Linked DNA regions of Homo sapiens: region 2 is linked to region 1. Evidence: fine-mapped QTL for protein levels in blood plasma. A gene starts in region 1. The other region holds a variant in brackets. All regions are shown on one strand. Distances are from middle to middle. Region 1 holds the start of CDHR1 (cadherin related family member 1). Region 2 overlaps CDHR1 (cadherin related family member 1).

Region 1 (5,461 bases):
GGCCCAAATACTGCAGGCTGCCAGGGACTGCCTTGGACGTGCACTCACCAGATTCAGGCCATCAGAAATGCTGATGATGGCTTCAATCTCATCTTCCCTCTGTGAAGCACAGGGACTGAGTGAGTGTCCAGGAGTCTGACACGCCATAGGACCCCTGTGGCTGGATGGAGCTCTCCCTGCCCCACGCACCCATCAGAGGAGGTCTGGGCGTGCCAATAGATCCCTGGAGCAGGGTAAGTGGTGGTGACAGCATGCCTGGCAGAGTAGAAAGCTGCCTCCCCCCATGCTTGAGACCTTATTTTGGGACTTTTGTGTCCGGGGTTCTTATAAACTCAGAGACCCAGAGGGTCTGTTGGGGCTCCAACAGAAAATACTCTCCTGCCACAGTGAGGCGAGATGTCGACCTTAGTGTGCTCAAGGTCCCATAAAGACTTTTCCTCTTTCTTTTCCCTTTTCTCCCCTTTTCTCTCCACACCTCTCCACATTCCAGGGCTCTGCAGAGGCTCACATCCATGGTGTCTCAGTGCTCCCAGGATATGGTGAGACCTCAATGGGGAAGGGTATCGGATGTTGCCAGATCCCGCGGGTGCCAGGGAGTGGGGTACTGGCAGCACAGTCAGGCTCCACTGCTGTGTCCCCACAGCAGTCCCTGAGACCTCCCTTTCCTTTCTCTACCCTGTCCTGCAGCTAGTGGAGGCTGTCACGAGCTGGCAGCATCCCCACAGCTGAGGTCCAGTTAGCCACACACCAGGCTGCTATGCGGTCTGAAAAAGCCCATGCCCTGTTGCCTGCAAGTTCTCAAGTGTGTAGAGTGGAGGAGCTCTGCCAAACTCAGACTCACTGCCAACCACCCTTTCCAGCCTTGACCTGCTCTGAGTTCCTGTGCCTCTCCCAGGACAGGCTTGAAAAATCACTTTGTGAGGTTTCTTTCAGAAACCTCAAAGTGCAAACGGATTTATTTTTAATGGAACATGCTTAAAAGATTAGCAGGGCTGGCAGGTGCTCGTTAAAGGAGCCCACTCTTCGCTCTGTGTGAAGGAGGAGCATGAAAGTAAAGCCCACTCTGCTGATGGGAAGTGGCCCAGAGATCTCACAGAGTGGATGTGCCTGGGGTGTGCCCCCTCATCCCCTACTCTGTGGAGAGGTTCTAACCAATGTGCTCCAGGGGAACTTCAGCCCACCGAGGTCTGTCTACAGGCAGTGGCCCCGCAGCACTCCCCACACCTCCCCATACCTCTCTGTCCAGCTCTTCAACCAGGGTGATGTTTCCAAAAGTGGGGTCAACAGAAAAGACGCTTCTAGTGCTGGGGTCAAAGCTGATGTGGTAGGAGATGGGGTCTCCCTCAGGGTCTGTCCCATTCAGGGTGTATACGTGAGAGCCTGGAAGGAAACACAGTGGAGAGACATAGAATCTGAGACCCAACTTTTCCTAAAAGTGGCAGATGCTCAGGACCAACGATTCAGCTGTTTATAAAGTGACTATTCAACTCAGTGCCAAAGGTACTGCCCTGAACTTGGTGCTCATTGCTGGCCTCACCCCTGCTGGCTGCTTCCCTCTTTGTATGTTTATTCTTCACAGCGGGTGGTTGTGATGATCAGCCACTTTCCAGATTGTAATCTATAACACGGGTTACAGAGCAGGTGCAGGTCTGCCGTGCCTAACTGTAGTGCCTATGTTCTGCTCAGCCTGGTAATAACTCCTCTCTCAGGATCCAAGATTGAGGGGCTCCTGGGTACAGGGAAGGGGAAATGGGAGCAGCCATTAAGGCAGGAGGGGTGACCCACAGTGCACCACTGTCCCCGATGCCTGGACCTGGTTCTGCAGGGATTTCTGAGCCAGGTGCCTACTTTGCTCTGCTCTCCCTTTTCCCCGGGTTCCCACTACCCACAAAGTGAGGGAGAAGGAGTGTGAAATCTCCCCTTTCTCCTCCCCTCTCTCTGCATATCTCAGCAAGTTGGATGTTCTTAGGCCGTTTTAAAGCCTAGAGACCTGGGGCTCAGGGAGGTAAATACATTTGTTCAAGGTCACACAGCCATAAGGGGCAGCTGTAGCTGCCTGCCTCGCGGGGCGACCCTGTCTGTGGGGGGGAGCCCTGGTCTCCAGGACTGGCCAGACTTAAGTCGCCATGGCAGCAATGACCTTCTTTCCTGCCATTGCCCAGGGGAATTCGGAGAGCAAACAAGGAGCCCCCGGGCGCGCGCAGCAACTTGGGTGGTGCCTGGGGCACTTTGTGTTCTAAGTCTGCCTGCACCCCTCAGGGAGACCTATCGGGAGCAGGTGCCAGGGCTACTCACCTACAGGGGTGTCCTCTGGGAGGCTGAACAGAGCCATGTTTCCGTTGGTGCTGCCGACCCCGTTGTCGAAGAAGTGCGGGGCGAAGTTGGCCTGAGCTGGAAAAAGAACACAGAACAGACGGACACCCAGGCAAAGGACACCCAGACACCAGGAGGGAGCTTCGCACCAGCGCGGTCCCGCGTCAGGCCCAGCTACTGGGCAGGAGGGCGCTCCGCCTCCCCAACCCAAGTGCACCGAGGGACCCCACTGGGGCGCCGCCCAGAGGATGCCCCTGACCCCCACTCCGCCCCCGGTGGGCTCGGGCTTGTCAGGGACACGTAGCATGTGGGCGCTTAGAACCCAGGTAGCAATCCAACCCCTCCTTCATCAATGGGCAGATTGCACCCGCGCTCGGAGAGGGGCAGTGCCCCAGCCCAGCCAAGGTCAAGCCGCGAGTCAGGGCACTATCTCCTGCCCCACGCAGCATCGGAGCTGCCACCAAGCCTACAGCTCTGGTTCCCAGCAAGCGGAGAGCAGCGGGGGTCCGGGCGCCAAACCCTGGGGCCCTAGGATGCCAGCTCTGGAGAAGCGCCCCGGAGCTCCCCACTACTCCGCTACCCCACTCCCCACTACCGAATGGGCCAGGAAGATGGAAGGACTTCTCCGCTCCCGTCCACCAGCCCGAGTCCCACTCTGGAAGTGGTCCAGGACCATGTCCCTCTGGCCACCTGGGTGACGCCAGCGCCCATCTCCCTCGCCATCCACGCGGCCAGCGCGGCCCAGCGGCCACTCACCCAAGCAGAGGCGCAGCAGCCCCAGGGCCAGGGCGGCCCACCGGCAGCGCCTCATGTCTCCGCCGGCGCGGAGTGTCGCCTGCCGCCGCCGAGACCGGGCGCAGGGGCACGGAGCATGCCCTGGGCCCGCGGGGAGGGCAGAGACCACAATGGGGGTAGCGGCGACTGCAGCCGCGGCGGGAGGGGGCACGGGGCGGGAGCGGCGGGTGGCGTGAGGGCGCTAAGAGGATGACACGGCTCGGATCTGCTCCTGCCGGCCGCCTGACGAGACCAATTAGCGGCGCAGAGCGGAGCGACAGGCTCCCAGCCGCGGGCGGGGGCAGGAGGGCGTGACAAGAGGACTCCCCGCCCGCCACGCCCCCTTTGCCGGCGGCCCCCAGTCCTGGACAGGAGGACACCATGGGGGACAGGAGTGTCTTTCCCCCAAGTTGTCCTGAGGCTTTCCCAGGGTACTTAAGTCCTGGTGGGGCTTGGGCTTCGCAGTTTTCTTTTCTCATCAACTTCCTCTGTGACTTTCAGGGGCTTAGCTGTCTTCTCTGAGCTAAGCATTCCAGAAGAAAAGTTAGTGGAGCGGCCGAGAGGGCCTTGCCTTAGCAGTCTAAGCAGGTTCTATAAGCCGCGTGAGACCAAAGGCAAAGAGAAAGGGTGATGGATGGGCAGCAGATGGTAAGGGGTTATCAGGACCCCCTCTCTGTGATCTCAACCCATTCCTGCCCTGTTCCCCAGGCTGGACCACCTCTCCCAAAGGGTCTGATCTGTGTGGTGGGCAGCAGGGAGGACCCTCAGGTGTCCACCAGGGTGAGAGGCAGTTCTGCTCCCCATTCCCAGTCAGTGCCCAGTCTGGGACCATGAAGGGGCAGCTGACCCACTCTTCAAACCTTCCAAGGAAGAGTGAAGGGCCTGAAGGCAGAGTTAAGCCCCATCTTAGGACAGACTTGCACAGAGCTGGCCAAGATAGATCTGAACTGCCCGAGAGGCACGAGATCTCATTCCTAGAGGGTATTTACACAAAGCAAGGCACTGCTATTGGGGTCCTGGATGCTGATAACTTGAAGACACAGGTAAGCCCAGGAACCTTTTTGGCTGCTGGTAAAGCTCCTTGGGCTTCCTCGTTCTCCTGCTCTGACACTGGAGGGTGCTTGGAAATGCAGCCTGTTTTCCTTTTCCTGGTTGGGCCATTTATGGGGGTACAGGTCACTTCAAGCCCAAGCCAGGCCACTTCCCAGGATGCCCTTGGGTGGATGTGTTCTCAGATAGAGGAGATCCCTCCTCTGTGTGCTCCTGGGAGAGGTCTCCACAGCTGAGGACTCAGCATTCCCCCCCTCCCCCTGCCAGGGGCCTTTGAGGGAACAGAGCACCCCCCATCCCTTGGTCTAGCCCTACATGATCTACTGTGAGCAAGGGTCAGGGATTTGCAGAGAAGAAGGAAGATGAATCAATGGTTTTAGAATGTGCAGCAGTTTTCAGGCCTAATTGGCCGAAACCCTTGTTGAGTCTCCTTAGGCTTGGCTCTTTTGCTGAAAAGACACACTTTAAATTGCACAGATGTTCTGAATCTGCCTCCCAAAGTGCTGGGACAAAGCTAAGGCAAGTATTCTGCAAGTCCCATATAGGGATGTGGAGACTGAGTCTTGCCGTGGATTTCCCAGGAGCCAGAGGCAGAGCCAAGGTTTCCTGGAGTAGATGTCTTGGTGGGCCGAGAAAAGCCAGCTCTCCCTGGGTCCTGTTAGCCCTGCTCCTCACCAATCTAGGGCCGTTGATTTCTCTCTCCTCAGTTCCCTCAGTCAACAGCCATGCACTGGAGAGGGAAGGGGAAGGAGTAGCCTACATGCCATGTGCTGTATGTGTGCTTATGTATATTTGCCCATATTATCTTATTTGACCTGCACTGCTCTCCCAATGTGATTTTCTCTGCTTTGCAGAGGAGGGAGATTTCCTCATTGGCTGTGTACGACCAAGCAAGTGACTTATTCTCTCTGAGGTGCAGAGCTTGGATTCACATACAGTTTGGGTTGGCTCCAAAGAAGGTTCAAACTCTTTTTTTTTTTGAGCTGGAGTCTCACTCGGTCACCCAGGCTGGAGTGCAATGGCGGATCTCAGCTCACTGCAACCTCTGTCTCCTAGGTTCAAGTGATTCTCCTGCCTCAGCCTTTCAAATATTGGCATTACAGGTGCACGCCACCATGCCCAGCAAATTTTTTTTCTTTTTTTTTTTTTTGGTAGAGACGGGGTTTCACCATGTTGGCCAGGCTAGTCTTGAACTCCTGACCTCAGGTGATCCACCCATCTTGGCCTCCCAAAGTGCTGGGATTACAGGCATGAGCCACTGTGCCCGCCTGGTTCAAACCCTTTTCATGGCAGAAGAAGATGATCTTGAATCTACTGAAGCTTC
Region 2 (3,797 bases), 11 kb before region 1:
AACTTCTTGTTTCATTCATTTTGTGGCCCACCTGGTCCCGGCTACATACGCAGAGCAGGTTGATGCAGACCCACTTAGCTTTGGGACCTTGGCTTCATACCGTTTGTGAGAAGGCAGAGCGGAGGGCAGGACCACACACCTGGTCGGAGTCATTGACGGTGATCTTGAGGCCCCGCAGGATCTCTCCCTGGGGTGGGTGCTCATTCATGGACAGCTCAAACCTGTTTTGGGGTCCGCTCTCTCCATAGAATGTTGGCGGGTGGTTGTTGAGGTCCACAATCCTGATGGTGACTGGGACGGTGGCCTGGGCAGCTGGGCTCCCCGCAGGGCTCATTTCAGTCACCTGGGATGGGGACAAGTGGCTATGGCTGTGTGGCAGGTGGACCCTTCATATGGTCCAGCTCCTACCTCCCCTGCAGAATGTATAATCCCCTCCGTTTGAGTGTGTCCTGGCTTAGCAACTTGGTTCTAACTGATAATATATGGCAAAGATGGCAAGCTATCACTTCATGATTACATGACAAGAGATTGTAACGTCTGTCTTGTGAACTCTCTCTCTTGCCGATTTTGATGAAGCAGGAAGCTACAGTTAACAGAGACTAATGGTGACCTCTAGCCAACAGCCAGCAAGGAGCTGAACCTCTTAGTCCAACAGCTCACAGAGAACTGAGTCTTGCCAATAATTGGGTGGGCATGGAAACCAACCCTTTCCCAGTCAAGCCTGCAGATGAGACCCCAGTCCTGGCTGACAATCTGATTGCAACCATGTGAGGGACCTGGAGACCGAAGACCCAGCCAAGCTGAGCCTGGAGTCCTGAACCACAGAAACTATGAGATATGAATGTGTATTGTTTTAAGCCACTAAGTTTGGGGTAATTAGTTATGCAGCTGATAACTAATACAGCCTACAAAGCCAGGGCAAAGATCCCATAGGTACCTTGTGAACCATGTGGCAGATATCCTATGAACCTCTTCAAGACCACCTTTCCCTTGTTCTGTAAGCATGCTCTGGTCTTTTGTATCCTAAAATAACCCTACCTGGACTCCACTCCTTGACACTTTCACTGCTATCCCTCTTGATTCTCATCCCACCCCTCATTCAGATTCTTCACCCTGACTTCCACACTGTATGTGGCACTGCTACTCTTTCTCCTTCCCAAGTGCTCTATTCCCACAGCAATGTGACTCTGCTCTCTACATCTTCTCCTCAACCTCTCTGATCCCTCCTGGGTTTCCTTTACCTGCCCCTCTCCTCCTCCTCACTCTCAGCCTCTTCACACAGCTCCCGCAGCTGTGCTTGGCCAATTGTCCTCTCTCTTCTTCTTCCTCTGGGTGCTTTTATTCCCTCCCATGCCTTCCACAGCTACCTGTAGGTTGACATTCTCTCCCACAATTCCAAACCTGTATGCCCAAGTTTTGATGTTTGAACTTGCATGTCCCTCGAGCCTTCAAATGCATCCTTCCTCACCTACTTCACTTGCCTGCTGTCCTGTACTCCTGACGGCACGGGACCACCTGGGCTTCATCTATCCCTCTCCCATCCCTTTCCCTCAAGATCAGGCAATTTCCTCATTCTGTGCAATCTGCCTCATGCATACTTTTCATTTTGTCCCTTTCTTCCATCCCACCTACCCTCAGCCCCACAGGCTGTCTTCCTCTGTTACTTTGGCCGATGGCTCTACCTCTCATCTAGTTCCCTCTGAACCCAAGTTGAGACCAGAGTTCTCAAATTCTGGCTGGGACTGGTACCAGAATTACCTGGGTGCTTATAATACGCAGATTCCTGGGTTTGCCCCAAACACACTGAATTCCTATGCCCGGGAGTGGATCCTGAAAATCTTGGTTGGCCCAAATCTCCAAATTTGGGAACTCCACTGGTCTGGTGAGCAGCCAGGTGAACTTTTCAAGTGGCTGTAATCCTGCTGAAAACCTTCCAATGGCTCCTTACTGCTCTTGGGTAGGACCAGCTACATAATTTGCAGGCCCAGCGAAAAATAAAAATATGGGATCCCTTGGTGAAATTATTAAGAATTCCAAGACAGCAAACAGCGAGCATTAAGCTTAGTGTGGGATCCTCCTAAGTATAGTCCTTGTGTGACTTCACAGGTCACATGCCCGGCTCTAGCGACAGATCCATACCTCCCATTCAGGACCTTTGCTCCTCTGGCCCCAGCCTGGGAGTCCAACGTTTCCTCCTTCTCCAGGCTGCCCATCTTTCTCTGCTCTGGCCTCAACTGACTCCTTGTTGTTCCCCCAATATATCAGTTCTCTCCCCTCCAGCCTGGGCTTGCTGCACTTTCCTGTCTTGGAATGCTTTCACTCCACCCCCACCCACCCAATGCCCGCCTCTGGCAGCATGCACCTGCAGGATCCCACCCATGCTCAGGCATTGCTGCTTCAGTTGCACCTCCTCTTGCCTTTCTGTGACTCCCTGTTTGTGAATTCATGTCTGGTGCAGGTGCTCTTTAGAACAACATCTAGCCCCCTCCCCAGACTATGGGCCCCAGGAAAAAGGGCCTGGGTGTCTTCACCTTTATAGACTTCCAGGGCCAAAGGTGGGCAGGGAAGACAAAGCTAGAGGGAGGGTACCTGTACATGCAGCTCATACACCTCTCTCTGGAGCTGGGCCGGGCTCTGAGTGATGGAGATGGCTCCAGATGTCTCATTAATTTCAAAGGCTCCATCGTTCCCTGTCAAGGGAGATGCACCCTGAAGTTCTGCACAGGACCACAGGGAGGCGCAGGGGAGTCGTGCCACAGGATCGTCCTGCATTGCCTAGGGAAGTCTTCATAGAATGGAATCCTGTCATCTGTGTCTTGTCAACATGGAAACAGTCTCAGAGGGGCTAAGTAACTTGTCTAAGGCTACACAGTTAGTGCAGATCTGGGACTTGAACTCACTTCTGTCCAGCTCCCACATTC[C/T]ATACTGTGTCCCTTTTCTTATGCATAATACTATATGTGCATGTGTGCACGTGTGTGTGTGTGTGTGTGTGTGTGTGTGTGAAGAAAAGAGAAAGGAAGCAGGAGGACATACAGTGAGAGACGGACATGGAAGGGGAGGGGGGAAAGAAGGGACAGGAGGGAGGGAATAAAGAGAGGAGAGGGAGGGTGTGGAGTGGGACAGGCAGGAGATGGGGTGGGTGCTCAAGGACTGGGTAAAGGTTTGCAGTGGTGATGGGAAGGAAGGCAGCTGAGGTCCTGTGAGGCTGGGGAAAGGAGGCTGGCAGCCCACATGTGAGCTGCTGGAAAGTGAGTATGCACAGGCATGTCCTAGAGAAAGGCCGGGGCATATAGACATGCACACTTCTGGTACCAGGCACCAGATGCGATGCCCTGGCCTGGCCCAGGGACAGCTCATCTGGCTCAGTTGCTGCCCAGCTGTGGGAAGAGCACAGACTGTGGAGCTAGCAGGCTCAGGTTCAAATACAATGATGGAAACTTGGGATGCCTACTCAGCTTCTCTGAACTTCAGTTTTCTTGTCCATATATAGGGCTAGCACTAGGGAGATGCCATATCACCAATGCATTTGATTCATTTAATTCATCTATATGCTGTGGGATAACAATTAAAAAGAATGAGGAAAATACATAGCCACTTAAAAAGTGTGAGAAATGTTGCCACGCATTCCCATCAAGGAGCAAATACCCAGGGGGAGAGGAGCATGGGTTAGCACCTCCGTGTTGCTCTCAGCGCCCCTGCCCCATGCTCTCTTGGCTGTTGGATATCATGACAGGCAGGGACCGAAGCACACAACCCAGAGACTTGCTTGTCTTGGACACAGCCCTTCCTCTCCATAC

What was found. A credible set is the group of variants that fine-mapping cannot tell apart. PIP is the chance, under the fine-mapping model, that this variant and not a neighbour inherited with it causes the effect. Protein levels are from antibody-based Olink assays in UK Biobank. Linkage for the fine-mapping came from a reference panel and not from the study's own genotypes, which makes the PIPs less certain.
Region 2: its variant is the best candidate, but not a certain one, in a credible set for the plasma level of the CDHR1 protein (UK Biobank, PIP 0.54).

What each region holds. Positions count from the first base shown.
Region 1 is chr10:84,192,424-84,197,884 of GRCh38, reverse strand. It overlaps CDHR1 (cadherin related family member 1), which reads right to left and starts at 3,348. Exons shown (of 17, transcript NM_033100.4): 1 at 3,070-3,348; 2 at 2,296-2,391; 3 at 1,235-1,380; 4 at 49-99. The coding sequence starts at 3,124. RefSeq lists silencers at 3,133-3,252, 3,323-3,452.
Region 2 is chr10:84,204,720-84,208,516 of GRCh38, reverse strand. It overlaps CDHR1 (cadherin related family member 1), which reads right to left. Exons shown (of 17, transcript NM_033100.4): 10 at 2,590-2,690; 11 at 140-343. Among named protein-coding and RNA genes, the nearest start is that of CDHR1, 12 kb to the right of the region's middle. The variant C/T (reference allele first, on the strand shown) is at 2,922.